Linked DNA regions of Homo sapiens: region 2 is linked to region 1. The links come from fine-mapping of genetic effects on gene expression. Tissue or cell type: testis. Region 1 holds a variant in brackets; the other region holds the start of a gene. All regions are shown on one strand. Distances are between the middles of the regions.

Region 1 (2,907 bases):
TAGAGAAAAAAATAGATACAGAAGCTGGTCTGAAATATCCTTCCAAATCTCACAACTCATATATGACATATGAAAGAAAATTGATGGAGGAAATTTAAAATTTGGCAACAATTCTAAATATTTACCTGACATGAAAGTGCTTTTTATCTGTATAGCAGGTTGAGAAGCTAAAAGAAACATCTCAAACTATGAATAACACCAAAAAATGTTTAATTAACCACAACAGAGTAGACTCCATTATCTTGAGTCTCTCTATAAAAAGCAATATCAAAAACACTGCTATCAAAGACGATGCAGGCAAAAGATCAAAAAAAAATGACAGAGTATTCCAGGCAGATAATTAATTTAAAATATCATATTATTTTGTGATGTTCGTAGTTTTGTCAACTTAAAAATTGTGTAGCTTGTGATTTTTCTTTTCTACATATCCTCTTGCATACCTAATTTTATTAATTCACAAATTGCATTACTATTCTGAAAGAGGATCCTCCAACTGCAGAACATCAAAGCTCCCCCACCACCAGGACCTGCCCCCTAACTGCACCTGAACTTGAGAATCTTCAGTTTTTCTGAGTGGCCTGGGGTCTCAGAGTGGACATCATTCACAGGGCAGTCAAGGGGATGGCAAAGGGATGGCCACCAGGCAGCCAATCCTAGGAGACATGGGCAAGCCAAGCATGGCAGCAGGCCTGATCCGACCCACTTCTATTGTCTTCATGAAACTAGATGCTGGGGAGACACCTGATCACTGCTCTCTTGCCTCATTTGGGGCAAATAAGCACGACACCACACACACACACACACACACACACACACACACACACACACGGCAAGCCAGCAGGGCCCATCCAAAGGCCTCAGGCAGGAGCTCTGCAGGCACTTTCTGTCCTCCTCTTCTGGAGCCTTACAGCCCACCTTTGACAAGAGATTCAGACACCTTGAATTCCTGTGCTTACCAACGGCCAGGCCAAGGAGAGTCCAGGAATGCCACCTGCTTCCCATGAGAAAGGAATTTCTCACATGACACAGGGAAAGAGTATGCCCCCCAACTCCCGGAATTGGGAGGATGACATGAGACAGGAGGGATGGGAGCAGTGTTTCTAGAATGCTGTGTGTAGGTGCTTATAGAGTCCACATGAAAGATAGAAACAAAGTCCAGACCCTGCACTTGATCTTCGTTTAACCAGTACAATTTATCTTTTCATCTGAGCAAGCTCCAGTTCTGCCAAGTAGTCGCCACTCTATATCCCTGACTCTGGGCCACTGTAGAGTATTCTTGTTACCGGCCAGGACTCAAACTATTTAAACTTGCAAATAGGCTACTTGAGTCTGCAAGGACTTGGGGTGATGCAGCCAGAGAGGACACGAACACGTTACCTCCACTACACTCTCAGACTCTCAGACCATTTGCTTTGGTTCTCAGGAGCTTCTGCCCAGCCCGACTCCCCTTTTGGCCCTATGGAAGTTGAACTTGAGGCTCCAGAGGCAGGCTACACAAGGAGCTCCTTGCTGGCATGCCTCCAAACGGTATCCACCAGCGCCTGCTCCGATTCAC[G/A]CCAAGGTGACATGCACACATTTGAGCTGGTGAGGTACTTAAGAGGCAGGACTTCTGGTTCATTAAGCAGCGCCCTCCAGGACTACATACCTGATAGGAAGGATAAACAACTCAGTTAGTAAAGACTGTCCGTCATCTCCAGCTTGCCAGGGAAACAACTATCAAGAGCTTTCTTCTGATGAAATATCAATTTCTGTGCATCACTATGCAGCAGTGACTTCCTCCGCCCACCCTCACCCCCCGGCATCCATCAATCTTCCTTACAAAAATGATTACAGATAAATGGACAGTGAAAATCACAACTGCCCCGGGCATCTCTAACTCCCTGTTGCAGTTTTCACGTGCAGCATGCAGTGTGAGTTTTGCCCTCAGAGGGGCTCTGTGTGCAGGCTGCTCTTGCCTTTCCCAGTGGGAAACGAGTGGAGCCTGCCTCTGTTATTCGCTAAATCTTTCCAACATGCAACATAGCCTCACCTTAGAGAATGCTGGACAACTCAATGTCAAAAATAGCCTGTTTCATTGCCAATACGCAAGGCCAACCCTAGGCAACAAGAATGAAGATTAATGCCAAATCTCAATTCCTGGTTCCTCACATCCTCCTTGATTTTTAAAAAAGTGAGGGAAAAAAAAAAAAATCTGAGGTGGACAAGAAGCCTATTTGGCCTCCTGCTGAAAAGATATTAGTTTAATACACATTTTATTAAACATTATTTTCATACATGCATTCTGCACCTAGCATGTACGAGGCCATATACTGAGCATTTTGCACACGTTACCTTTTGTAATCCTTGCAATAACCCTTGAATTAAGTAGTGAGCTAAAAAGAAAGAGGCAGAATGGGCCAGAAATCCAACTTTCTCGGATTCTGATTCTGTGCTGTGTCTTGGTGCATAATTTTAAGAATCATGGGTATCTCCCTTCAAGAGCCTTCCCTACTTCCACCACTTCGGAAGTACATCCTGGAAGGGACCAGGTAGAGGCAGAGCCAGCGGCCAGCTGCTGGGAGGAGAAGTAGAGAGGGCTACTTAGTACTCCTCTTCACCTCTCGGGCAGAGATGATAAAAAGGAAAATTAAAAGGATAAAGGCTTAGATATTCCCAGGCTAAGAAAGGAGAAGAAAACCCAAAGTATATTAATATTAACCAAAAGGTATAAAAATATATCCCTGGCCGGGCACAGTGGCTCACACCTGTAATCCCAGCACTTTGGGAGGCTGAGGTGGGTGGATCACCTGAAGTCAGGAGTTCAAGACCAGCCTCATCAACATGCAGAAACCCCATCTCTACTAAAAATAAAAATTAGTTGGGCTTGGCAGCGCACGCCTATAATCCCAGCTACTCGAGAGGCCGAGA
Region 2 (2,907 bases), 5.2 kb after region 1:
TTATTAGAATCAACTTTTCCAGAACTCTAGAAATTGACCTCTAGAAATTGACCAAAGACTTGTAGCAACTCAAGAAGCATGTATTTAAGAAAACCAGCCAATTCTCAATAAGAACAGTAAGCTTTGTGGCATTTTACCTTGATTCACTCTCATGCCTCACTTTCCTTTCCTGCAGTGGCCTTGAAAAATGACACCCCACATTCCTGGAGCGGTACTGGAGCCACCAGAGTGAGCAGAATGAAGCTGTTTTTAAAGCCTCATTCCCAAAGATTTGTCCTTTCGGAACTGTCTCGTCAGACCTGTCTGGTAATACTCTGGAAGACTCCACATGCAAGATTGTCTGTATTTGACCTGACTTGGAGATTTACTGGTTTCTGGTATTTACAGAAATCTCTGTCCTATCCTTACTCAACAACCAAGCTAACCAAATAGAGACTTCAGTTGCCACAAGTAACAAAGAGTACAGACTTTGTAGAATTAGTTCAAAAAAATTATTAAATATACAAAACAGCTAAAAAATTGCAGCACCAACAATATACTCTGGGGAGGGAGATAATGATTTTAAGAGGTGTCACAATGTATTATTTTAAGTAGTCATCAACAGAAATTACAAGGCATGTAAAGAAACAAAGTATGGCTCTATAATAGGAAATTAAGCAACTAATAGAAACGGTTCCGAGAAAGTACAGACTTTAGTCTTACTAGAAAATACTTTAAAATTGGTTATTTTAAATGTGCTCCAAGAGCTAACAGAATGTGTGTCTAAACAACTGCAGTAAATTATGAAAACAATGTCTCACCAAATGCAAATATTCACAAAGGGATCGAAATTACATATTTTTGAAAAATTTATAGAAATTCTGGAGTTAAAAAGTACAACTAAAATGAAAATTTCACTATAGGAGCTGAGCACAAAATTTGAAGAAGCAGAAGAGAGTATAGCAAACTTGAAGATAGGTCAATTGATATTATCTAGTTTGAAGAACAAGAAGAAAGAAAATGAACACAGCTTTGGAGGCCTTTGGGACATCAGCAACAAAGCAAGATGTAGATTAGAAGAACTTCAGAAAGAAGGGAGACAGAGAAAGGGATAGAAAGAATATTTGAAGAAATAACGAATCAAAACTTCCCAAACTTGATGGAAAACATCAATCTACATATCTAAGAAGCTCAACAAACTGCAAGTAGAGTAAACTCAAAGAGATACACAGTCAGACACATCATAATCAAACTGTTGAGAGAATCTTGAAAGCACGAGAGAGAGACAAGTCATGTTCAAGGATCCTCAGTAAGCTGATTTCTCACCATAAACCACGGAGGCCAGAAGATACTGGATGACATATTCAAAGAGCTGACCAATGTCAACAAAGAATTCTATGTCCAGCAATATTATCCTTCAAAAATAAAGAAAAAATTGGGACGCGGGGGCCCAGAGCTTTCGGGCAGGCCCAGCCATTGAAACCCGAGACGCGGGGAGGAGCTGTCGCTGCGCTCCGGGAGGAACGAGGGCGGCCCTGGGCCTGGCCAGAGCGGCTCCCCTTACCTGTGACTCAACAGGCGGCCTCAGCCTCCATCCTCGGGCTAGGCTGGCGCCGCGCCCCGCCCCGGAGGCTGTCCCTGTGCCCCTGGCGTCCTCCTCCCTCTCCCATTCCTCCCCAGGGGCTGCCCCCATTCCCCGCTCCCCGGCCCCTTCCCCTCCCCCAGGGTCACCACCCAAGTCTTCCCAGCTACCAACCCCTGGCTCCCCAGAGAGTTTGCAAAGATTGTGGGCTCCACCTTCCCTCCTGATTCGCCACCCGCAGGAGAATTTACTATTTCTCTTTCATTTGTGGGGAGAAGACACCGTTAACGCCCCCACCCCCCGCTCACACGCCCACCCTCGCCGGTGCCCCGGGCCTGAACGCGGCACATCTCAACCCCCTCCCACGCCCCTTCACACTTCTATTATTTCTGTTTCTTTGGACAAGAATCATTTGCGTTAATGATTTTTTTTTGAAAACGTTCAAGTTTCACTCCAGTAAGCTTCCTAGAAGGAAGGAGGAGGTGAGGGAGGAGAGAGAAGGAAGAGGAGGAGGAGGAGGCTTTGGCTGCAGCTGCGGCGAAGGCGGTTTTGGCGACTTTGGCGGCGAAAATTTAGACAGTTGAAAAATAGGCCAAAGCACACTGAACCTGCAGGACATCCCGTAATCTTTTCTGCCCATTTCAAAGTCTTTCCCTGTCCTCACCCAACTATTACAGGCCGCTTTTGCTGAAACCTGACAATGTCATTTAGTAAATGTTCAGCTAGTATTCATTTGAAATAGAAATAACCAACAGCAGGTAATTTCTTCTTGGCCTGTTTCTGCGTGTTATCCAAGGGGAGGTGGAATACAGTGGTGGTTTTAAAATGCCAGCAGCCTAGGAACCCAAAGGCCTCAGCAGCCTGGCACCTCCCCACCCCCCTGCGGCTCTTAGGGGCCGAAAGATTGAGGGTCGTGATCAACTCAGTATACCACTGGAGGCCACGTGAGTAAGCAGCAAACTGTTTCTCATGAGAGCAGGGTGTTGGCAAACTGACAACCTGTGTCTGCCGCCCAGAAGGACTGCTGAGGGCAGTCACCACCCAGGTGCAAGTGTTTAGGATTAGACACAACTGAAGCCTGTTAGTAATGAGAACTTGTGATAATCAAACAGCTGACCAGTCTTAGGGCCTCCTCCCTGCTCATTCTCCCAATGAATGCGAAGGGCTGTGGAAGCTCGGGGGGCTGCCTTCGCTCACTAGAAGCAGGGAGCTCCCTTCTTCCCGGTTTCCCCTTCCTTTAAAACAGATTTTTTTAATCATTTCTACGTTTGTCCTTTCGTTCAGTCCTGTAATGACGGTCTCAAGTAGTAACAATAACTGTCGTAGTGACGGTCTCAAGTAGTAAC

Evidence for each region. PIP is the estimated chance that this variant, and not a neighbour inherited with it, causes the effect.
Region 2: LINC01582 starts here. The variant in region 1 is fine-mapped to the expression of LINC01582 in testis (GTEx, PIP above 0.99).

The regions. Positions count from the first base shown.
Region 1 is chr15:98,081,805-98,084,711 of GRCh38, forward strand. LINC01582 (long intergenic non-protein coding RNA 1582) reads right to left here. Exons shown (of 4, transcript NR_120325.1): 3 at 2,030-2,096; 4 at 1,175-1,645. Among named protein-coding and RNA genes, the nearest start is that of LINC01582, 5.5 kb to the right of the region's middle. The variant G/A (reference allele first, on the strand shown) is at 1,556.
Region 2 is chr15:98,086,963-98,089,869 of GRCh38, forward strand. LINC01582 (long intergenic non-protein coding RNA 1582) reads right to left here and starts at 1,791. Exons shown (of 4, transcript NR_120325.1): 1 at 1,736-1,791.